Linked DNA regions of Homo sapiens. The protein of the gene in region 3 interacts with the protein of the main gene of each other region in a biochemical or structural test. Each region holds a gene or a part of one and is shown on either strand. Other genes may lie near its edges. The genes, in order: PPP2CA, USP39, CHEK2, MED1, RNF8, FHL3 and RB1.

Region 1 (3,500 bases), on a different chromosome or scaffold from region 3:
GGCTTCACCATGTTCTCCAGGCTGGTCTCGAACTCCTGACCTCAGGTGATCTGCCTACCTCAGCGTCCCAAAGTGCTGGGATTACAGGCATAAGCCATCACGCCCAGCCTATTTTTTCAAACAATCTGACTGAGGCATTCATTCTCCTCCTTTTGTTTTGATTCTGTACCATCCCCTTACTCAGAACGCAGACGCCTATGATTTTTAAGTCCAAAACCTGAACATATGCATTCCTAAATGTGGAATTTTGTTTTAACATTCAGATAGAGAAAATAACTGGGGGAAAAAAAACTTTCAAGAGGACTGTCTTACCCATTTCAACATGCCCCAACATAAAATTGAAATTACCTTAAGAGCTACAAGCAGTGTAACTGTTTCAACTGAATAATATCCTCTGTCAACATAATCTCCCATAAACAAGTAATTTGTATCTGGTGATTTGCCACCAATTCTAAACAGTTCCATGAGATCATGAAATTGCCCATGCACATCTCCACAGACAGTAACTGGACATCGAACCTCTTGCACGTTGGATTCTTTTGTCAGGATTTCTTTAGCCTACAGATGGGAGACAAAAATAAGGCAATACATTTGGCATTAAACAATATTAACAAAGATTTGTTTACTTACACTTAATGTAGCTTAAGGGGCAGACTCAGTCTAAGATAAAATTGCAGGCATTTATGAACCCATTAAAATAAGTGAGATATGATTATAATCCATTAGCTATCTCACCCTGTTACCTAGGGAAAAAATATGCATTCCTATCATCAATACCAGGAGTTTTTTAAAAACCTATCAAATAGCCATCTAATTAAATACTAATTGTTAGCTGTCACATAAAACCAATGAAAATCGAACAGGACATTCAGGTATCTACTTCCTTACCTTCAGAGTTCTAACTACAATGCAGCACTCAAAGATTCTTTTTTTTTCTTTTTTTGAGACAGGGTCTCATTTTGTCACCCAGGCTGGAGTGCAGTAGTATGATCATAGCTCACTGTAGCCTGGATCTTCTTGGCTCAGGAATCTTCCCACCTCAGTAGTGGGGACCACAGGCACACGCCACCATGGCTGGCTAATTTTCACAAACTTTTTTGTAGAGACGGGGTCTCACGTGATCCTCCACCCTCATCCTCCCAAGGGCTGGGATTACATGCATAAGCCACCTCACCTCAGCCCTGTTTGACTTTTTAAAAACATGTTTTTGGCCAAGCACTGTGGCTCATACCTGTGAGAAAATCATTTGCTCAACCATCTGTACCAGCCCCATGCTAGCAACTGGACATATAGTGGTGAACAAGATGGCTCATTCCCACTACCGTAGAGGGGAGAAGGACCACAAACAAGTAACCAAGCCAAAAGTACACTGTGTTAAGTGTCACAAAGGAAAGGGAGAGGGAAACTGGGAGAGACCACTTTACATAAGATACCAAAACAAATTACCAGAGAATTGTTGCTAATGAGCCATGACAACCACAGATGACAAGGACTGGGTTCAAAGCATTGGTATGCAATCTTAGCTGCACATTAAAAATCCCAATGCCCAGCCAGGCGCGGTGGCTCGCACCTGTAATCCCAGCACTTTGGGAGGCCAAGGCGGGCCGATCACTTGAGGTCAGGAGTTTGAGGCCAGCCTGGCCATCATGGCGAAACCCCATCTCCACTAAAAATAAAAAAAACTAGCTAGGCATGGTGGTGCATGACTGTAGTACCAGCTACTTGGGAGGCTGAGGCAGGAGAATTGCTTAAACTTGGGAGGTGGAGGTTGCCGTGAGCCAAGATCGCATCACTGCACTCCAGCCTGGGTGACAGACCAAGACTCTGTCTCAAAACAAAAACAAAAACACCAATGCCCATTCCTTCCCCTAATAAAGTCAGAATTTTGGAGACTGGAATCAAGCCATCAATAATTTTTAAGCACCCCCACCCCTCCTTTTCCCAGTGTGCAACCAAGTTTAAGAACCACTGCACTTTGGGACGCTAAGGCGGGTGGATGGCTTGACCCCAGGAGTTCCAGACCAGCCTGGAGTACAGTGGCATGATCTCGGCTCACTATAACCTCCACCTCCCAGGTTCAAACGATCCTCCTGCCTCAGTCTCCATGAACAATTGCGACCACAGGTGTGCACCACTATGCCTATTTTGCACTTTTTGTAGAGGTGAGGTTTCACCATGTTGTCCAGGCTGGCCTCAAACTCCTGAGCTTAAATGATTTGCCCACCTCTGCCTCCCAAAGTGCTGAATTACAGGCGTTAGCCACTATACTGGCCTGAGATACCTATTAAGAAATATGTACAACCCATTATTATCAAATCCTACTTCATTCTGAAATTTTTCTCTGCAGGGTAATTCCAACTTCCCATTTACTATCACTAAAAAACACAAATTCACTAGGCTTATTCCATTACCAAGTCTGTCTGGCATTAATACCACATCTAGTGTTTTTTTAACACCTATCATATATTAATGAAAATAACTAAATGAAATAAGTCCTACACTGAGAAGAAACTTGCAAAAGTTATTCAGAAGTTTTAAAAGGGCATGACATAAGCAAACAGATGGTTATATACCATGTAAATCTTGCCATGATGTAATTTTCACATTTAAAGCTATCAGAAGTTAAATGTTAATATACTTCTGTGAATATCTGTTTATCTGCAAAGCTATTCTCTGTATTAATAATAAAAAGTTGACTTTCAGGACTGCCTGAAGTTCCTTACTACAACTGACTCAAATTTTCTATTCAAATCATGAAGGAAAATTAAGTCTAAATGCTATTTGTTGCTTTTATTTCAATTTAGGCAAATCACACCGATAAACAGTGTTATCTATTTTTTAAACTATACAAATTAGTAATACATTCTTGTAAAAAATTTCGGCACAGATAAAATGAAATGTTCCCTTTGAGCACCCTACACAATCCCACCCCCTTTGGGCAAAGTTACCAATAAAATTTTGATGTACAGATGCTCCTCAATTTGTAACACAGCTGCATCCAGATAATCCTATCGTAAATATAATCGAGTCAACAGTGTGTTTTCAGCTTACAATGTTTTCAAGTTATGATATATTTATCTGGATGTAGTCCCATCATAAACTGAGGGGTATATTGAATAGCTATCATTTTCACACCATCATTAAGTCGAAAAATTGGGGAGTGTCTGTATATCCTTTAAAACTTTGTTTACAAAGTTTACACACATACTGTATGTCTACAGAAACAATAGTTTTCCTTTGCATTTTTAAACTAGAAACAATATTGTTCAGCAGCCTGCTTTTCTAACAATATATAATAATACATAACATTTATTGAGACAGCTGGTTATTTTCTCATAGTGGAGGCAGAGTATTCCCCTGACCAATTACAATGGCAGAGGGGTGTGAAACTACAGCAATATATATCCTCGTATTTTCTCCTCTGTATACATATGCAGGCACATTTCCTGAGAGAAGATACTATGAAGTGAACTTAACTAGTGTATCTAGTAGTTTGGTTT
Region 2 (3,500 bases), on a different chromosome or scaffold from region 3:
TTTATCATTTCAACTCATTCACACCAAGCAGATGCCATGTACATAGTATAGTGGAGGATTCAAATGAGGTAAAAACAGCTGGGCACAGTGGTTTACACACCTAATCCTAGCATTTTGGGAGGCCGAGGAGGAGGATTGTTTAAAGTCAAGAGTTCAAGACCCACCTGGCTAACATAGCAAGACCCTGTCTCAAAAAAAGAGATAAAAACTGTATTCTTTGCTCTCGTAAGGAGCTTATAAGGAGTCAAGGTTGACATGTAAAACAACCAGTGAGTTCTGTTAGATCATAAAGATTACTGCTGGACTGTGGCACGGAGTAAAAATAAGTGCAATAGGAGTTGAATGTGCAAAAATCAATGTTAGCTGGAGTGTTTATGTTGAGTTCATGGAAGAGCTGAGGTGGGACTTGAATTGGCAGGACATAGAATTTGAATGGTTAAGGGAGAGAGATTCTAGAAAGGAGTAGCAACATGAAAAAAGTTACATAGATAAAGCATTGTCCTGAATATGGGCATTTGGAAATCCAGGACTGAGTGATGATGGACTGTCATAGGATATGTATGTATTTATGTTTATGTGTATTTATGCACACATATATGCATAGATATTTCTAGTTTCATGTATATAGGAAACTATGTATGAATATATAGTTATATGTATTATATATAGATATATATATAGGTTATATATATTTTACATATATATTAAAAAATAGTGAAATTTGTTTCCCTAATCAATGTCTTAGGCCATTTAGAGAATGAAGTAACTAATGTGCTAGTCTTTCTTGCTAATTTTTTTATGAGAGAACTTCATGTGGAGGATTCATTTTATGAATGGCATAATATTTGTTTTTTGCGGATATTAACATGTTCCGGTAGAAAATAATGAAAGGAAAAGCAAACCTGATCTGTGTGTTCTAGTATCTGCCCTTCTATTACAGCTTTTCACCCTTCCCTACAGGCCGGGGTTTGAAGTCTCACGCCTACATTCACAGTGTCCAGTTTAGCCACCATGTTTTCCTCAACCTCCACACCCTCAAGTTTTACTGCCTTCCAGACAACTATGAGATCATCGATTCCTCATTGGAGGATATCACGGTGTGTGTCTAAGAGGGTTGGTTTGGGGTCCATTCTTTAATGAGCCATCCCAGGGCTCCCAGGGGACTGCCCCACCTGAGGACAGGGAAGAATCTCAGTCCCTTTAGGCATCGAGAGGCTGCTTTCTCTTTTGGGAAGAACTGGGGAAACTGAGTAAGGTCAGAATTCATAATTGCAGCCTGTAGTCTGTAACTTAACTGTCATTTCTACTTGTAACATTGAGGGCTAGGACTGAAGAAATATGGGTGTATTCTGATGGGGTTTAAAGTGTTTTTGTGAAATTATTCTTCTACACTGTGAAGTAGGGATATGAATTGGTCCTGGTGTAGGACAGTATTTACCAAGCTGCACACCGGCTCCTGGCTGCTTTTAACATACGCCGTGGCCAGAGCATCCAGCCACAGATATCTTATCTGTGGGCTCTAGTTTGTGACCTGTGCCAAGAGACACTCATTGTACTGAGCATGGAAAGTCCTCTTGGGTTTGATTAGTGTTGGGCTTTTGATTATTATTTTCCTTTTCAGCACGTGGGGTGTATTCATGGTGCCATGTGCTCTGTTCTTGTTTTTGGTTTTTTTTTTGAGACAGGGTCTCACTTTGTCGCTCAGGCTGGAGTGCAGTGGTGCCATCACAGCTCACTGCAGCCTCGACCTCATGGGTTCAAGTGATACTTTTACTTCAGCTTCCCAAGTAGCTAGGACTGTAGGCGTTACCATCATGCCCAGATACATTTTTAAAATTTTTTGTAGAGATGGAGTCTCACTGCATTGCCTAAGTTGTTCATGCTCTGTTTATTTTTAAGGAAAACGTGGTATTTAGTCTTTGAAATACTGCTTTTTCTACTTGTAAAAGTTGTATAAGCCTATTATTAATAGTTGAGATTAAAATAGTTATGGACAGGCTTGGTGGGGAGGCCCACACCTGTAATCCCAGCACTTTGGGAGGCCGAGGCAGGTGGGTCATTTGAGGTCAGGAGTTTGAGACCAGCCTGACCAACATGATGAGACCCCGTTTCTACTAGAAATACAAAATTAGCCGGGCATGATGGCACATGCCTGTAATCCCAGCTACTTGGGAGGCTGAGGCAGGAGAGTTGCTTGAATCTGGGAGGGGGAGGTTGCAGTGAGCCAAGATCATGCCATGGCACTCTAGTCTAGGCAACAAGAGCAAAACTCCATCTAAAAAAAAAAAAAAAAGTTATGGTCAGTATTTATAGAGGGAAAAACTGGGCTAAATTCAGTGTTTCAAAGTGAGTTTGCGATGATCTCTGTCCAGTCTGTGACATAATGACTGTGGTAACTCTGTGCCTGGGAAGAGTCTGATCCTGCTCTTCCAGTACCAGGGACTCATGGAGATCCTCATTCCCACCCAGAGTGGAGGAAACTCTCCTGCTCCAAAGCTAGGTCCATGTGCTGCTCCCAGGAGGTTCTATCTGAGACTTAGACTGCCTTTAGGAACTTGAGTATTGTATGGTTTCTGGCAGTCAGTTTTCATGAGTTGACCAGACCTGAGGTCGGCGAAAAGACCTGGGATTCAGTGATTTTGGGATAGACACAGAGATCCCCTTGTAGATTAGCCATGGGAGAGGATCTACTCCGTGTTACTTCAATCTTTACACCTACTGGTTCGGACTATTTTTCTGTGTGTGGTGGGATGTTCATGGCCAAGTGTTTTTTGTTTTTGTAGAAATTACTGTTACAGACATTTCTTGTGAACTCAGCTCTTAAACAACTTAGCATTTTCTTTTGCTTTGCAGTATGTGTTGAAGCCCACTTTCACAAAGCAGCAAATTGCAAACTTGGACAAGCAAGCCAAATTGTCCCGGGCATATGATGGTACCACTTACCTGCCGGGTATTGTGGGACTGAATAACATAAAGGCCAATGATTATGCCAACGCTGTCCTTCAGGTAAGATCAAGACGGGAACATTGAGGAAGAGAAGGACACCCAGAAGGCTGAGCACAGTGGCTCACCCCTGTAATCCCAGCACTTTGGGAGGCCAAGGCAGGCGGATTGCCTGAGGTCAAGAGTTTGAGCCAGCCTGGCCAACATGGAGAAACCCTGTCTCTACTAAAAATACAAAAATTAGCTAGATATGGTGGTGGAAGCCTGTAGTCCCAGCTATTTGGCAGGCTGAGGTGGGAGAATCGCTTGAATCCGGGAGGCAGAGGTTATAGTGACCCGAGATCGCGCCACTGCACTCCAGCCTGGGGAACAGTGAGACTCTGTTTCAAGAAAAAAAAAAGAGAGGGACAGGAAATAGTATGTGTACTGGCCAAGAAATTACTGCCTTCGGCCAGGCGCAGTGGCTCATACCTGTAATCCCAGCACTTTGGGAGGCCAAGGCGGGAGGATCACCTGAGGTCAGGAGTTCGAGACTAGCTTGGCCAACATGGAGAAAC
Region 3 (3,500 bases):
TCTGTATTACCGCTGTGCTCCTGCTAGGGGTTGGGGCTGCCATTTTTAAATGCTGACCTCATCTGGAACTGCCAAGAGTTGGAAGTATGTTGTGGCTTTGCTGGGTTAATCTTTAGTTTTAGAATTAGCCACGGCATTGGGCAGGTTTTTCTGATAGATGTCTGGTCTTCTGTAATGAGCAGTTCCATTCAGCACAGACATGCCCCTTTCTATGAATTTTTTTTTGGTTTGTGTATTAGTCTGTTCTCACACTGCTATAAAGAACTGCCCAAGACTGGGTAATTTACAAAGAAAAGAGGTTTAACTGACTCACAGCTGCACATGGCTGGGGAGGCCTCAGGAAACTTATAATCATGGTGGAAGGGGAAGAAGGCATGTCTTAATGGCAGCAGGTGAGAGAGCTTGTGAAGGAAGTGAAGGGCGAAGATCCTCTTATGAAACTGTCAGATCTGGTGAGAACTCACTCACTATCACGAGAATAGCCTGGGGGAAACTGCCCCCATGAGCCAATCACCTCTCAACAGGTCCCTTTCTCAACACCTGGGGATTACAATTTGAGATGAGATTTGGGTAGGGACACAAAGCCAAACTGTATCAATCCGTTTTCTGTGGAGATGGGGGACAGAACTGGTAGCTTGAGCTAGAGGCTGTTACTTGAGCTAAATGCTGTTTCTCTGGGGATTACTGGTCCAGGAACTCCTTGGGCAGTCCAGCCTCCGACCCGTACTTCTGGGACTCTGGGAAGACTGTCCCTGTTCTCTGTTCCAATCCTCTACACCTAACAGTTTTGCTCAGGCCAGCTCAGGTTGAGAACAACAAAAACTTAAAACAAACAAACAAACAAACAAAAAAAGACATATATGTGTTTGGATGTTGCCCTGGAAACTACAGTCTCCCCAGAAGAAATCTGTCAGATGATTTAGCATTTAATAGACCACACAGATTTGAAACAGTGGGACCCTGGAGGAAAGGGGTTTGGAAACAAAGGGTGCCTTTGCATGTGGGGATTTTAATTTTGATGAAAAAGAGAAACATGTCTTTTGGCTCTTTTCATGTGTCCTAATAGGGAAACTCTTGGGTCTAAATGTAGAGGTACAGGAGCTGTGTTCATCTCTAACAAAAAATAGAGCTGGCCAGTTGAGCCTGGGAACAGGGTTTGCATCTGCCTGAAATTTATGAGCAAGCATAGCCTATCTTTCTTGTACTTTTTTGTGTCAAAGAAAACTTATTAACAACCAAGGAGAAGGTGAAGTTCAACTCTGTTGCAGGATCTCCCTGGAATACTCTTTTAGCCACCTTTTGTTTTTGCAGTGAAAGGAGGAATGAGCATTGAATGAAGACAAGGATGAAGACTGACCATCTAAAACATCTGTTAGTGATAGTTTGGGTTTTATTTTGGGAAAATTCAGTGTTTTTGAAAAAACCAAATGGTTTTGTGGGTCTGTCGCTGAACTGAGTGTTGGGAATGTGGATTCTGGTCTCTGTTTTGTCATTAACAGAGTGCCCAGTTTTGGGAGCATCCCTTACATCTACTCTCTGCCTCATATTTACTGCCTGAAATAGAGGATTTCTTCTGTTTACTTTCAAGGGATATTACAATTTAATTTTTATTTTATTTACTGTTGGAGACAAGGTCTTCTTCTGTTGCCTAAACTGGAGTGCACTGGTGCAATTATAGCTCACTGCAGCCTTGATCTCCTGGCCTTAAGGGATCCTCCCGCCTCAGCCTCACAAAGTGCTTGGATAATAGGCACGAGCCACTGTTCCTGGCTAATTTAATATTTTGGAATAATTGTAGACATCATGAAGAAAATCAATGTTTATTTATTTATTTCCTTTTTTGAGATGGAGTCTTGCTTTTGTCTACCAGGCTGGAGTGCAATGGTGTGATCTCAGCTCACTGCAACCTCTACCTCTGGGTTCAAGTGATTCTCCTGCATCAGCCTCCCAAGTGGCTGGGATTACAGGTGCCTGCCACCATCCCAGCTCATTTTTGTATTTTTAGTAGAGATGGGGTTTCACCATGTTGGTCAGACTGGTCTCGAACTCCTGACCTCAGGTTATCTACCCACCTTGGCCTCCCAAAGTGCTGGGATTCCAGGCATGAGCCACTGTGCCTGACCTGATTACTTGTTTTAAATACAGGCCTGATTAGGCTTGTGACCACTCTGTTTGGCTTCACTGAAGGGCTGCCAAGAGATGGACTTTTGAGAGTGACACTGCAAGATAATTGAGATCCTAAGTAAGGCCGTGAGAGGGTGCGGAGTAGAATCCAGATGAGCTTGCTGCTGTCAAATGGCAATGGGGAGCTACACTGAGAAACTCAAAACAGAGTGACCTCAAGTGATCTGCCCTGCCTTGGCCTCCCAAAGTGCTGGGATTACAGGCGTGAGCCACTGTGCCTGGTCCTTCTTTCCTTCTTTCTTTCTTCCTCCTTCCTTCCCCCTCCCCTCTCCTCCATTCCTTTCCCCTCCCTTCTTTCGTCCCCCCTCCCCTTTTTCCTTCCTTGCTTCTTTCCTTTCTTCCTTCCTCAGGGTCTTGCTCTCTCACCTAGGCTGGAGTGCAGTGGCATGATCACTGCACCATGACTTTCAGGCTCAAGTGATCCTCCTGCCCCAGCCTCCCAAGTAGCTGAGACTACAGGTGCATGCCACCATGTCTGGCTAATTTAAATTTTTTTTTTTTTTTTTTTGGAGACAGTGTTGTACTCTTTTGCCCAGGCTGGAGTGCAGTGGTGTGATCCTGGCTTACTGCAACCTCCGCCTCTTGAGTTCAAGCGATTCTCCTGCCTCAGCCTCCTGAGTAGCTGGGATTACAGGCGTGCACTACCATGCCCTGCTTATTTTGTATTTTTAGTAGAGAAGGGGTTTCACCATGTTAGCCAGGCTGATCTCAAACTTCCGACCTCAGGCGATTCGCCTGCCTTGGCCTCCCAAAGTGCTGGGATTACAGGCGTGAGCCTCCGTGCCTGGCCTAATTTTTAATTTTTTTTGTAGTGACGAAGTCCCACTATGTTGCCCAGGCTGGTCTCAAATTCCTGGCCTCAAGCAATTCTCCCACCTTGGCCTCCCAAAGTGCTGGGATTATAGGCATGAGCCACCATGCCCAACCTAGTGTTGTAAAATTTCCATATCCATCAAATTGCCAAATGGTGGAGGACTTTACTGTATCCTCTCCCTTTCCCCACTGTGGTATGCTTGGCTCAGTGGGAGGAGGGGCTGGAGTTGGGTGGGAAAGTACATGAGGCACTGGAATCAGATAACTCTGGGTCTGTATTCTGCACATGCCACCTGTGAGTGGCTGAGCTGGGCTTCTGGCCAGCACTCAAAGGCCACATTCCTAGTTATGGATGTTCCTTTCACCTTGCTGAAGATGGGGAGAGCTGCACCAGACCACCTCTCAGGGTTTCCTAATGCAAATCCTCGAACCCTGCAGAAGTGAGCATCCAGAGAGGTGGGAGCTACTCGCATACACACTGTCTGTGCCCTCCTCATCTCCTG
Region 4 (3,500 bases), on a different chromosome or scaffold from region 3:
CAAGTAGCTGGGATTACAGGCATGCACCACCACATCTGGCTAATTTTGTATTTTCGGTAGAGACAGGGTTTGACACTCCAGCCTGGTCATCAAGAGTGAAACTTAGTCTTTAAAAAAAAAAAAAAAAAGGTGGATAGATAACAGTCCAGTGGTATGGTATTCCTTACATCAGACCCATAACTTGTGTGTCATCTTGCCATTAAAAATGTCTTCTTTGGATGTTTTGAAGTAAAATGATTTTGGAAAATATTTTAACTGAATTCTTACTGTGATGAAGTGTGGGAATTTATTTTGCAAGGAAAACTGTGGATGGTCTTGATAGAACAGTTACTGATAACGTTTTCTGATTTAAATCATAGAGTCAGAAAAGCTGAGTAAGATGAGTTCTCTCCTGGAACGGCTCCATGCAAAATTTAACCAAAATAGACCCTGGAGTGAAACCATTAAGCTTGTGCGTCAAGTCATGGTAAGGATTGTGGTGAAGTGGGTAAAGTGTTTTGCTTAGATAATTATTCTTAATACGCTAAGCTCCCCATGTAGATGTGTTCATACTATCTTCATAAAACATCTGAATACATGGTGGTTTCAACTTTAGGAGTCTATTGTATCTATACTACAGGTTGAATATCCCTTATATGAAATGCTTGGGACCGGAAGTGTTTTAGATTTTGGATTGTTTTGGATTTTGGAATATTTGCAAATATATAATGAGATATCTTGGGGATGGGACCCAAGTCTAAACACATAATTTATTTATGTTTCATAAACACCTTATAGATATAGCCTGAAGGTAATTTTATACAACATATTTAATAATATATTTAATACTTTTGTGTGTGAAACTAAGTTTTTTTTTGTTTTTTTTTTTTATTGAGACGGAGTTTCACTCTTGTTGCCCAGGCTGGGTTGTAATAGCCCGATCTCGGCTCACTGCAACCTCTGCCTCCCAGGTTCAAGTGATTCTTCTGCCTCAGCCTCCCGAATAGCTGGGATTACAGGCATGCGCCACCACGCCCAGCTAATTTTTATATTATTTGTAGAGACGGGGTTTCTCCATGTTGGTCAGGCTGGTCTTGACCTCCAGACCTCAGGTGATCCACCTGCCTTCGCCTCCCAAAGTGCTGGGATTACAGGCGTGAGCCACCGCGTCCAGCCGTTTTGACTGCATTTTGACTATGACCCTGTTATGTGAGGTCAGGTGTGAAATCCTTGGTGGCATCATTGGGAATGCTAAAAAGGTTTTGGATTTGGGAGCATTTCAGATTTTTGATTTTCAGATTAGGTATGCCCAGCCTGTACTAGTAGAATTTTTGATTCATTCTTTTTTTTGAGACCAGGTCTTATCATCCAGGCTCAAGTGCAGTGGCGCGATCATGGCTCACTGCAGCTTCAACTTCCCAGGCTCAGGTGGTTCTCCCACCTCAGCCTCCTAGTATCTGGAACAACAGGTGCATGTAACCATGTCCAGCTAGTTTTTTTTTTTTTTTCTTTGAGATGGAGTCTTGCTCTGTGGCCAGGCTGGAGTGCAATGGTGCGATCTCGGCTCACTGCAACCTCTGCCTCTTAGGTTCAAGAGATTCCCCTGCGTCAGCCTCCCGAGTAGCCGGGACTACAGGCACACGCCACCACGCCTGGCTAATTTTTTGTATTTTAGTAGAGATGGGGTTTCACCATGTTGGTCAGGATGGTCTCCATCTCCTGACCTCGTGATCTGCCTCCCAAAGTGCTGGGATTACAGGCGTGAGCCACTGTGCCCGGCTGCCCAGCTAGTTTTTTATATTTTTTGTAGAAATCGTTTTTTTTTTTTTTTTTTTGAGATGGAGTGTCGCTTTGTCACCCAGGCTGGAGTGCAGTGGTGCGATCTCGGCTCACTGCAAGCTTTGCCTCCCGGGTTCATGCCGTTCTCCTGCCTCAGCCTCCCGAGTAGCTGGGACTACAGGCCCCTGCCACTATTCCCGGCTAACTTTTTGTATTTTTAGTAGAGACGGGGTTTCACCGTGTTAGCCAGGATGGTCTCGATCTCCTGACCTCGTGATCCACCCGTCTCGGCCTCTCAAAGTGCTGGGATTACAGGCGTAGCCACTGCGCTTAGCCAGAAATAGGTTTTTACTCTGTGGCTCAGGCTGGTCTCAAACTTGTGGGCTCAAGTGATCCACCCACTTTGGCCTCCCAAAGTGTTAGGATTACAGTGTGAGCCACCGTGCCTGGCGGATTCATTTTTTTTTTTTTTTTTTAAAGATGGAATCTCTGTCTGTCACCTAGGCTGGAGTGCAGTGGTGGGATCTTGGCTCACTGCATCCTCCGCCTCCTGGGTTCAAGCGATTCTCCTGCCCCAGCCTCCTGAGTAGCTGGTATTACAGGCATCCGCCACCATGCCCAGTTAATTTTTGTATTTTTAGTAGAGATGGGGTTTCACCATGTTAGCCAGGCTGGTCTTGAACTCCTGACCTTGTGATCCACCTGCCTCAGCCTCCCAAAGTGCTGTGATTACGGGTGTGAGCCCCTGTGCCTGGCCCAGGTTGTCATTTTTATTCCTTAAGGCAACCAAATTCTAGCTTGAAATATGTTCTGTAAATGATACTGTCATTAGAGAGACATTGTGAGATAGAAGGATTCCAGGTGGCTAATAAGGCCCTCTCTTTGGGTACCACTCTCTTGGTTTGGTCACCATGACTTTGCTTGTCTACTTTTCAGTTTTGCAGATTCAGAAACCTAATTTTATTGGTACATCAAGATTTTATAGAGTTTTCATGGCTGGGCGTGGTGGTTCACATCTGTAATCCCAGCACTTTGGGAGGCTGAGGCGGGTCGATCACCTGAGGTCAGGAGTTCGAGACCAGGCTGACCAACAAGGTAAAACCCTGTCTCTACTAAAAAGACAAAATTAGCTGGGCATAGTGGCAGGCGCCTGTAGTCCCAGCTACTCGGGAGGCTGAGACAGCAGAACCGCTTGAACCCGGGAGGTGGAGGTTGCAGTGAGCCAAGATCATGCTACTGCACTCCAGTCTGGGCATCGGAGCGAGACTCCATCTCAAAAAAAAAAAAAGAGTTTTCAACAACTGACATACTGTATGCTTATTTATTAATTTATGACAAAACATTTAGTTTTCCAGTTTTCATAATACTGGTATTCATTGACCAGAGCACCTCTTCTCCTGTCAAGAATCAAGAGATTTCAGATTATTAATAAATTACTTTGTTTTGTAAGGGAGAATTAGAGCAGTGAGATAGATTTATTTGCAACATGGAAAAGCCTGGAAAACTATCCTTATACCAGAAAACTGTTCACGTTTTTAGGGACTGGAATGTTTTTCAGAGAGAAACTTCTTCACTGGATAGGGTTAGGAAAACTAGGCTAAGTTTTTTTTTGTTTGTTTGTTTGTTTTGTTTTGTTTGAGATGGAGTCTCACTCTGTCACCAAGGTTGGAGTGCAATGGTGTGGTCTTGGCTCACTGCAACCTCTGCATCCCCGGGTCAAGCGATTCTCCTGCCTCAGCCTC
Region 5 (3,500 bases), on a different chromosome or scaffold from region 3:
AGCTTCCACATTGGAGGGGGCTGATGAGGAAATACAGCATAAGCTCAGGCAAGGAGAGAGGAGGAGCAGAGGAGCAGTGTATAAACTGAAGTGGTAAAGACTCAGAATGAGAGACAAGATGGCCAGAGTAGAGGGAAAAGAAGCATGCTAGATGTTGTGAGTGCCAGCACTGGGAATTACATCTGAGTTTAGGTATTTGGGGGCTCAGAAGTTCTCAGTTTACATCCTTTTGGGAATCATGGCGTTAGTCCATGAAGGAGGCTTGGACTGTTAGGCCATAGTATTTCCAGAACAACCCAATTGGTGGCTTAAAGCCGACAGTCCTGAAGTGTGCAGTATTTGAGCAGATAACTGCTCAAATTCTTTACTGCCAACAGCTTGAAGTAAAACAGGAGATTTTCCACCTGCTCCCTCACCCCTGTTGTTTCCAGATGCTCATACTAGCTGGTCTGCTCTGCTTGTTGCTGGATTGTGTTCCTTTTTTTCTTTTCCCTGCAGAGAAACCTTCCATTTTGTTTTGGCTTTGCAGGGTTTGGAGATAGCCCAAGGAGAAAAGGACCTGAAGCAACAGCTGGCCCAGGCTCTGCAGGAGGTAACTTTGCCATAGTACTAAGATTATAGTGGGCTGTGGAGTGGGGAGCAAACAGGCATCACATGACCACTGGCTGCCTCTGCTGCTTAGCCCATACCTCTGTGGCATCCCCAGTCTGTAAACAGAGCAGGTGGCAGCTGCTCACACCATCAGATCAGAGATTTGGAGCCTTACAAACATGCCAGACCTCAGCATGAAAACTTACATCTTTGTCTGAGCAGAAGTTGCTCTGGTGAAGATGGAATGGAGCTTTAGCAGTTAAGAGGCTCTCTGGGGAAGTGGCTCCACTTCTAGAAAGGTGAGGGCAGCAGAGGGAAAATGTGAGGTATGACTTGGCCACCAGGGCCCGTGAAGGCCTCTGTTACCGCAATGTTCCTGAGCTGTAGCCAACCAGAAACAATTGGGGAATGTTCCAGTTAAGCATTTTAGGCCAGGTTGAGAATGTGCAGTTTAACAATCAACAACACATATCAATTTATTGAAAAGGTAAAGCTCAACAGGACTAAAATTCTCCTAAAAGATTGCCTGTAATTTATTTAATTTAACCTGACTACTCTCATTTGATTATTTTTTTGTGTGCTCTTTTGCATCTTTAAAACCTACTATGTCTTCTACCTTTTATGTATTATGATTAGTAGTTTAGTGCCATTTAGTCAGGATGGTTCAAATCTCATTGGAAAGAGTGAGCAAATCACATAGGAATTTGTTCAGGGGAATTTATCCTTTTATCGTAAACCTACTTCCCAACCTTAACAGTGCTAACAGTCATACAGTATTGTAAGCATGACAGGGTGCCTGCCTTGATCTCCTTGAGGGTTGCACAAACAGCTTTGGAAAGAATTAGATGAAAATTAATTCAATCTTTTTAGAATTTTATTTTTTGAGCTTGTTTATTTTCTAGGGTGGGAGAGTAGGCATGTTTCCCATTTGGAACATTATTAAGTTAATATTCAGACATTGTTTTGAAATTGAAAAAGAATGTGGTTCTGCTAGTTGGAAATCCCTGAGGGATCACTGAGTACCCTGCACCCTCTCCTGAGACAGGAAAACACTCTATCATTTTGCATGGGATACTTGGCCATGCATTTATTAGCTTAAAATGTGATACTTTTAGACCGGGCACGGTGGCTCACGCCTGTAATCCCGGCACTTTGGGAGGCCCAGGCAGGCGGATCACCAGAGGTAGGGAGTTCAAGACCAGCCTGACCAACATGGAGAAACCCTGTCTCTACTAAAAATACAAAATTAGCCGGGCGTGGTGGCGCATGCCTGTAATCCCAGCTATTCAGGAGGCTGAGGCAGGAGAATCGCTTGAACCCGGGATGTGGAGGTTGTAGTGAGCTGAGATCGTGCCATTGCTCTCCAGCCTGGGCAACAAGACTCCGTCTCAAAAAAAAGTGATACTTTTAGGTCATGGTTCTATACCATCATGCCTGGGGGACATGCCACTCTCATGCAGTGGTGGTTTTTTGTTCCACCATGCTGATACTTTTGAAAGCTGTTCTTTACCAGACCATTATAAAAACTGTTTTTATAATGGTCTTTTATAACTGATTTCCTGTTTAAATCACATAATACCTTCCTCTCCAATCTCCAAGAAACTACCACATCTTTTTAAACCGAGTGATTCATAAGTTCTCAGGGAATTTGACTATAGTTAGAAATGGGTCCAGACCTTCACTGCCCTAAGCAGTCTGCCAGTCTTTGCTTTGAGTGGAAAAGAAAATAAAAAGATGTGTTTATATACAGCTCAAAAAACTTCTCTGAATGCTTTTCATACCTGTTATTTTCTTATGAACACTGAGGGAGGAGGGGGCACCTATTTTCCCATTTCCTTTTATTTTTATTTTGAGACAGTGTCTCGTTCTGTCACCCAGGCTGGAGTGCAGTGGTGCAATCTCAGCTCACTGCAGCCTCCGCCTCCTGGGCTCAAGTGATCCTCCCACTTCAGCCTCCTGAGTAGCTGGAACCATAGGCGCGCGCCACAATGCCCGACAATTTTTTTGTATTTTTGGTAGAGATGAGGTTTCACCATGTTGCCGAGGCTGGTCTCAAACTCCTGAGCTCAAGCCATCCACCCGGCTCAGCCTCCCAAAGTGCTGGGATTACAGGTATTATGAGCTACCACGCCCGGCCATATTTTCCCATTTTATAGATGAGAAAGTTAAAATACACATATCTAATTAGTGTGTCAAGTTGAAGACCCAGGCCTTTTGACATAACTGCTTTTTTTTGTCAGGAGATCACACATTTTAAAATTTGGTTCTTGAATAATATCTTTTCAAAAATACTTACCTTTACTCCACCTTCTTTTAAAAAGAATTTGAGGTGAGATTCTAAAGTATAAGCTATACTTAAGCATGAGAGAACTCATAAATTATGTTTCATATATGTGGAACCTCTTGACATTCAGCATAGGCATTTAGTCACAATGAATGAGCTGTTAGCTCCTGGGTGTGCCTTCTTCCAGAAAACACTGGCAGGGTTCAGGCAGCATTGTCTGAGCATGTAATATGTGATTTGTAGAACAAATAGGTTAAAAATCTTTTTTATTTCAATAAAAATGACTATCTAATTCTGCTGATTCCCATTTCCTCCTGATTATTTCATAAAAGCTGCTTCCAGTTCTGAATAGCTTTTAATTACTTACTAGTTCTTAAATACTGTTCCCAGAATCACTTGGGTGGCTTTAAAAAAAAAGAAAAAAAGAAAAGCACATTTCTGGGCTCCAAGCCAAACCTATAGAAGCAGACTCTGGGACACAGTGAAAGTTCTTCAGTTGACTTGGATGGCCACCAATGTTGGGTTAGTTTTAGAGGCCCTAGTCCATTTGGTGGCCGCCTTCCCTAACTGCCCTCTCCCCTGAAAAAAGCAGCAGGTAGGTAAGATAGCCCAATGGAATAAAGGT
Region 6 (3,123 bases), on a different chromosome or scaffold from region 3:
TGCAAAATGCAACGAGTCCCTGTATGGACGCAAGTACATCCAGACAGACAGCGGCCCCTACTGTGTGCCCTGCTATGACAATACCTTTGCCAACACCTGTGCTGAGTGCCAGCAGCTTATCGGGCATGACTCGAGGGTAAGGAGAGGGCCAGGCCAGGCAGGAGGTGGGTGGTGACCAGTGGAAGGGGGCAAAGGATGGGTCCATGAGGCCTGGGTGCCAGTGCCCCTGCTGTGTTCCCCACAGGAGCTGTTCTATGAAGACCGCCATTTCCACGAGGGCTGCTTCCGCTGCTGCCGCTGCCAGCGCTCACTAGCCGATGAACCCTTCACCTGCCAGGACAGTGAGCTGCTCTGCAATGACTGCTACTGCAGTGCGTTTTCCTCGCAGTGCTCCGCTTGTGGGGAGACTGTCATGCCTGGTATGTGTTCAGGGGCTCATCTTGTGTGAGAACTGGCATCTGCGTAGGGTCTTTGCATGTGTCTGTCTGATACATGGAGACTTGGTCTGTGTAAAGACCTGCATACACAGCATGTTTCTGGAAATTTAGTATATACGGGATCTGTTTGCCTGGTATACTCCTGGGGGCTACTATGTACAGGCAGATTGACACATGTGATACATACTTGGGGGCTTAGCATGTGTGAATATCTGCATGTTTAGTACAGGTAGGAACTAGAGGTGTGCTGAGACTGTCATGCTTGTTGCATTGGGTCTTAATGTATGCAGAAGCAGATAAACAGAGGGCTTAACATGTGTGGGGACCTGCATGCCTAATAGAAATGCTGGGACTCAGCACCTATGGAGAATGGTGTGCCGAGGAGATGCGAGGGCTTAGCATGTACCGAACCTGTCATGCCCAGGGCATTAGAACTTTGTGTGGGCAGATACTTACTTGCCTGGTACATGTGGGGTCCCATGTGAGTGCTAAAATCATCACATCTGTTATATGAGGGCTTAGCTCTTAGTGAGACTTCATGACTGTTACATGGAGGCTTGATGTGTGCTGAAATTGTCATCTCTGGGACATATGGGGGCTTAACATAGGCCAAAACCCTCGTGTCTAGCTGGGTCATCATGTCCGGTGTCTGGGGAGAGGTTAGCATGTGTAATATACATAGGGCGGGGGGGTTCTTGCTGCATGTGCACGGACACCACCCTGCTCACGCTGAGAGAGGAGTGGAGACTCCTGGGGAAGTTACAGAGGGTGGCCCTCAGGAGCATGGGACACAACCTCTAAATGGGACCCCTGTTCCCCACAGGGTCCCGGAAGCTGGAATATGGAGGCCAGACATGGCATGAGCACTGCTTCCTGTGCAGTGGCTGTGAACAGCCACTGGGCTCCCGTTCTTTTGTGCCCGACAAGGGTGCTCACTACTGCGTGCCCTGCTATGAGAACAAGTTTGCTCCTCGCTGCGCCCGCTGCAGCAAGGTGGGGGCTGGGCCAGCCAGGTGGGGGTGAGTGAGGCCTGTTGTGGGGTGGGAATCCCCACTCATACCTACTAATGGATGCTGCCCCCACAGACGCTGACACAGGGTGGAGTGACATACCGTGATCAGCCGTGGCATCGAGAATGTCTGGTCTGTACCGGATGCCAGACGCCCCTGGCAGGGCAGCAGTTCACCTCCCGGGATGAAGATCCCTACTGTGTGGCCTGTTTTGGAGAACTCTTTGCACCTAAGTGCAGCAGCTGCAAGCGCCCCATCGTAGGTGGGACAAGGGTCAAAGAACGGAGTGGGTAGGGTGCAGGCAAGGGAGTGGGATGTGGTATTGGGTGAGGTTGAGGGCCGGACCATCCCCACATCTGCATAGCTAACTTCCAGCCTCCCTCCAGGACTCGGTGGAGGCAAGTATGTGTCCTTTGAAGACCGACACTGGCACCACAACTGCTTCTCCTGCGCCCGCTGCTCTACCTCCCTGGTGGGCCAGGGCTTCGTACCGGATGGAGACCAAGTGCTCTGCCAGGGCTGTAGCCAGGCAGGGCCCTAAGCCAGGGCTCCTGGACCCAGGCTTTCCCATACCACGGGCCCAGGACTGTGGCTCCTTTTCTAAACCACCTCTGGGACTCAGCTCCCCCCGCCAAAAAAAATGGGTCTCCTTCTGGGCTCCAGGATTGTCTCCCCACTCCAGCATCCCCAAACTGGTACTCCCTGACCCAGGGCCCCAAACCTGGGCTCTTACAGAGCCTCCATGAGTCAAGCCCCCTCCCCACACCTGGACTCCAGAATTCACCCTCTCCCCTGCAGTCTGGGTTCCCAGACTGAGTCCTCTCCCCAAATCAGGGCTCTAGACCCGAGCCCTCCAAACCTGGACTCTGGGACTTAGGCCCCCTTAAATCTAGACTTCTCTTTATAGGTTTCAGGTCTCCTATGGGTGCCTGGGAAGTCCTTGAAAGTGGACTGTTCTCAGGCTTGACCTGCCCCACCCCATCCCCGCGGTTGAGGCTGTGGGGGCAGCAGATCAGGAGCCCACTGATAAGGGGCCCTAGGGTACAGGGTGCTGCCCAGCAGGTCGCCACCGAGTGTCTTCTCATTTTATTTCAGCTCCATTTTGCCCATAGATGGGCAGAGGGGTGAGATTGGCTCATCCCCCTTCCAGATTCTGCAATAAAGCGGTGTGAGGAAGCAGGGGCCTCCGTGTGTGTGTGTGTGTGTGTGTGTGTGTGTGTGTGTGTGTGTTCAGGGTATAATGGGGAAGGAAGGGTTTTTGCAGACTGGGAGGCTCAGAATCTCTGCTAGACCTCATCCTTGCAGGGTGGGGTGGAGGGGGGCCGGGCCATGGGGTGGGAAGTCTCTCCCCATGAAGGGGATCCCCGCCACAGCTACCCTCCCTCTGGAGCTCGTCCTGCCTCCCTGCTGGCAGAGGGCTTTTTCCCTCATGTAGGGAAGGGAGGGGTTTGGGGGAGGTTCCAGATGAAAGCCAGGGTGGCGGTGGGGTTCCTTAATTGGCTGGTACGAATAGTCTCCTCCGCCAACAGCCCTGCCCAAAGCCCGCAGAGCAAGGACCTGGTTCCGATCCCCAGTCTGGGCCCAGACCCTCTCAGCCCCCTTCCCCCTCTTCCCAAGGATTAGCAAGGGCGGCCCAGGATCCTCTCGCGGCCGCACGTTTTTTGCCAAAAAAGGCA
Region 7 (3,500 bases), on a different chromosome or scaffold from region 3:
TTAACTTACTGCTATATGTGGCCATTACAACCTCAAGAGCGCACGCCAATAAAGACATATGAAAAATGTTGTCATTCAGAAGTTTGCTAAAGGAAAAAAAAAAAGATTATAAAATACTTACTTCTATAAAAAGAAAAAAATTTTTTACTAAAAGTAAAAAATTTACCTAAAATTTTGAATGGATAATCGTTCTTCTTCCTGAAACAGATAATTTAAAAAAAAAAAAAGAAGTTGTTTAATTGAAACCTTATTTGTGTCAGCATTGAATTTTTTTTTTTTTTTTTTTTTTTTTTAGATGGTGTCTTGCTCTGTTGCCAGGCTGGGGTGAAATGGCACAATCTTGGCTCACTGCAACCTCCACCTCCCTGGTTCAAGGGATTCTCCTGCCTCAGCCTGCCAAGTAGCTGGGACTACAGGTCTACACCACCACGCCCAGCTAATTTTTGTACTTTTAGTAGAGACAGGGTTTCACCATTTTGGCCAGGATGATCTTGATGCCTTGACCTCCTGATCTGCCCACCTCGGCCTCCCAAAGTGCTGGGATTGCAGGCGTGAGCCACCGCGCCCGGCTGAAATTTTTTTATATTGTTTTTAACTTACTGATTTAAGCATGGATTCCATTACTCGGTAATACAAGCGAACTCCAAGTTTGTATCGCTACAAACAAACAAAAAGAAAAATAAGAGCCTGCTATTTTAGAAAATCACAATTATGAAATTTTTTTTTTTTTTGAGATGGAGTCTCACTGTTTTGCCCAGGCTGGCCTTCACACTCCTGGGCTCAAGAGATCCTCCTGCTTTGGCCTCCCAAGAGGCTGGGATTATAGGCATGTACCACTATACCCAGCTGACAATTACTAAAATTTTTTAAAAAGCCTTTTCTTAAAACATACTTCTCACCCTTCTTACAAATATGGCCGCCAAGACAACACAAAAGCTAGCTTGTCTAAAACTCACAACTTAAGTATTAAGTGGTGATTAACATTCCCAAGTAAATTAACAAGAGGGTAGGTCCAGTACCTGGATTTCCTTAACTCCATTTCAGTTTATATCATTCATACTAAAGATAGGTTATGTGCCCAGTACTATTTTAAGCACTTTATGTACCTTATATAACATTTCTCATGACCTAGGACATGTATTTTCAAGATAGCTGTCCAGGATTAAGAGGACAGTCTTTGTCCATAAATTTAGTAAAACTGACACAGGCAAAAATCAGATCAAACTGACCTTATGAGCAAGAAGTTTTAGCCAAATAACTAGTTCCCATTATTTGAAAGAATAACCAAATTTTAGAAATATAAACACACACCATATTATTTCCTTCCAAACTAAGAGCAAAAATCTCATATATAATCATGCACCGCATAACAACGTTTTTGGTCAATAACTGACTGCATATCTAACAGTAGTCCCATAAGATTATAATGGAGCTGAAAAATTCCTATTGTTTAGTGTAATGTAGTGCAATGCATTACATTACTCACATCTTTGTGATGATGCTGATGTAAATAAACCTATTGCACTGCCAGTCATATAAAAGTATAGTACATACAATTATGTACAGTACATAATACTTAATAATGAACATGTTACTGGTTTATGTATTTATTATACTATACTTTTTATTAGTTTAGAGCATCCTCCTTCTACTTGTAAAAAAAAAAAAAAGTTAAATGTAAAACACCCTCAGGCAGCTCCTTCAGGAGATATTCCAGAAGATAGCATCATCATCATAGGAGTTGACAGCTCTATGCATTTTATTGTCCCTGAAGACTTGGGACAGAATTTGGAGGCAGAAGACAGTGGTATTGTTAATCCTGATCCTGTGTAGGCCTAGGCTAATGTGTGTGTTTGCCTTTGTTTTTGGCAAAAATCTTTATGAAATTGAAAAAATTTTTAAATAGAAAAAAGTGTACAGAATAAGGATTATAAAGAAAGAAAATATTTTTGTACAGCTGTATAAGGTGTTTGTGTTTTAAGCTAAGTGTTATAAGAGTCAAAAGTTTCTTACAAACTGAAGATTTATAAAGTAAAAAAGTTACAGTGAGCTATGGTTAATTTACTACTGAAGAAAGAAAAAATGTTTATGAAATTAGTTTAGCCTAAGTGTAGTATTTATAAAGTCTACGATAGTGTACAGTCATGTCATAGGTAATATTGTAGGCCTTCACATTCACTTGCCACTCGACTCACTGACTCATTCAGAGCAACTTTCAATCCTGTAAGCTCCTTTCATAGTAAGTGCTCTGTGCAAATGTTCCATTTTTTATCTTTTGTACTATATCTTTACCTTTTCTATGTTTGGATATATTTAGATACACAAATGGTAACACATTATGTTACCATTACCTACAGTATTCAGTACACATGCTGTAGAGGCCTGTAGCCTAGGAATGAATAGGCTATATCATACAGCTTAGATGTACAATCGGCTATACCATCTAGGTTTGTACAGACACACTCTACCAGGTTCACACAACAAAATTGCCTAATGATGCATTTGTCAGAACATATCCCTGTTAAGTGGTGCATGGCTGTAGAATCAAAAAGAACCATTAAATATCAATGTTTAAAACACTGATGGCATCAAAATATAACCTCACTACACTGAAATAAATGTGTACAGTGGACTCCAGTTTTCCAATATATTTTTGTATATTATCCTCATTAATGCCACACAACAAAGCAGAGCAAATATAGAACCTGAATCTCAGAGAAGTTAAATGACATGTCCAAGATCAACAATGGTAGAACCAAATATAAACCCAGGGCTGTCACTCCATGGCCCATACTCTTACCTATTATATTAGCTTTAGATTTCCTGAAATAATATCACTCAATAATATCACTGACAAATGGCATGTATAGTCCCATTCACATTAGGATATGCATACATGAACAGTCATACATGTAGAAGTCAAAGCAAAATCAAAAATTTAATATCAAAGATTTCAATTTTTTTCTTAGTTGTATTTTCCAAAATTTCTACAATGGCTATGTGTTCCTTTATTACATAGTTTTTATAATGGGGTGGGAGGTAGTTTTCCATAAAGTTACCCATAAATAGCAGCATACACAGGCAGCAGGGATATAGTATCTGACAGTATTTTATACTACTAGACAAATACTGTTAGAGTATTTATACGAACTGGAAAGATGCTGCTTTTAATATTATTACTCTATAGTACCACGAATTACAATGAATTCAAGTTACCTGTGATCCAATTTCGACACAACCCTGTCCCACAGCTTTAGCAAATTTCTCTTTAAAGATGTATCCTATATCCTTCACTCTTTTCAGTATACTTTCTTTTGGATTCACTGTGCAGTTCTTTAGGAGGTAAAAACAGAAATCAATGTCGAGGATACTGTGTAATCAGAATTAATATTTTCTGCTCCATAATATATGACTTTTTAAATTGTTCATAAAAATGTGGAAACACTTCCATAATAACTAGGTAACCACAACTACTGAACATAAGCAGACAATATCATTTC

The links.
Region 1: of the proteins of CHEK2 (region 3) and PPP2CA, one has a biochemical effect on the other in vitro, tested with the Homo sapiens proteins (2 studies listed by BioGRID).
Region 2: the proteins of CHEK2 (region 3) and USP39 form a complex in vitro, tested with the Homo sapiens proteins (one study listed by BioGRID).
Region 4: the proteins of CHEK2 (region 3) and MED1 form a complex in vitro, tested with the Homo sapiens proteins (one study listed by BioGRID).
Region 5: of the proteins of CHEK2 (region 3) and RNF8, one has a biochemical effect on the other in vitro, tested with the Homo sapiens proteins (one study listed by BioGRID).
Region 6: the proteins of CHEK2 (region 3) and FHL3 interact in a test that uses a peptide from one of them, tested with the Homo sapiens proteins (one study listed by BioGRID).
Region 7: the proteins of CHEK2 (region 3) and RB1 form a complex in vitro, tested with the Homo sapiens proteins (one study listed by BioGRID and IntAct).

What each region holds. Positions count from the first base shown.
Region 1 is NC_000005.10:134,205,574-134,209,073, forward strand, and holds part of PPP2CA (serine/threonine-protein phosphatase 2A catalytic subunit alpha isoform), read right to left. Parts: intron 559-3,500; coding exon 349-558; intron 1-348. UniProt on the Homo sapiens protein: Catalytic subunit of protein phosphatase 2A (PP2A), a serine/threonine phosphatase involved in the regulation of a wide variety of enzymes, signal transduction pathways, and cellular events.
Region 2 is NC_000002.12:85,622,686-85,626,185, forward strand, and holds part of USP39 (ubiquitin carboxyl-terminal hydrolase 39), read left to right. Parts: intron 1-940; coding exon of another isoform or gene 941-960; coding exon 961-1,097; intron 1,098-2,853; coding exon 2,854-3,006; intron 3,007-3,500.
Region 3 is NC_000022.11:28,689,821-28,693,320, reverse strand, and holds part of CHEK2 (serine/threonine-protein kinase Chk2), read left to right. Parts: intron 1-3,500. UniProt on the Homo sapiens protein: Serine/threonine-protein kinase which is required for checkpoint-mediated cell cycle arrest, activation of DNA repair and apoptosis in response to the presence of DNA double-strand breaks.
Region 4 is NC_000017.11:39,444,764-39,448,263, reverse strand, and holds part of MED1 (mediator of RNA polymerase II transcription subunit 1), read left to right. Parts: intron 1-359; coding exon 360-466; intron 467-3,500. UniProt on the Homo sapiens protein: Component of the Mediator complex, a coactivator involved in the regulated transcription of nearly all RNA polymerase II-dependent genes.
Region 5 is NC_000006.12:37,370,983-37,374,482, forward strand, and holds part of RNF8 (E3 ubiquitin-protein ligase RNF8), read left to right. Parts: intron 1-529; coding exon 530-592; intron 593-3,500. UniProt on the Homo sapiens protein: E3 ubiquitin-protein ligase that plays a key role in DNA damage signaling via 2 distinct roles: by mediating the 'Lys-63'-linked ubiquitination of histones H2A and H2AX and promoting the recruitment of DNA repair proteins at double-strand breaks (DSBs) sites, and by catalyzing 'Lys-48'-linked ubiquitination to remove target proteins from DNA damage sites.
Region 6 is NC_000001.11:37,996,270-37,999,392, reverse strand, and holds the end of FHL3 (four and a half LIM domains protein 3), read left to right. Parts: coding exon 1-136; intron 137-244; coding exon 245-419; intron 420-1,260; coding exon 1,261-1,430; intron 1,431-1,522; coding exon 1,523-1,709; intron 1,710-1,833; coding exon 1,834-1,988; 3' UTR 1,989-2,623; downstream 2,624-3,123. UniProt on the Homo sapiens protein: Recruited by SOX15 to FOXK1 promoters where it acts as a transcriptional coactivator of FOXK1.
Region 7 is NC_000013.11:48,376,751-48,380,250, reverse strand, and holds part of RB1 (retinoblastoma-associated protein), read right to left. Parts: intron 3,334-3,500; coding exon 3,217-3,333; intron 658-3,216; coding exon 601-657; intron 417-600; exon of another isoform or gene 377-416; intron 199-376; coding exon 167-198; intron 87-166; coding exon 10-86; intron 1-9. UniProt on the Homo sapiens protein: Tumor suppressor that is a key regulator of the G1/S transition of the cell cycle. The hypophosphorylated form binds transcription regulators of the E2F family, preventing transcription of E2F-responsive genes.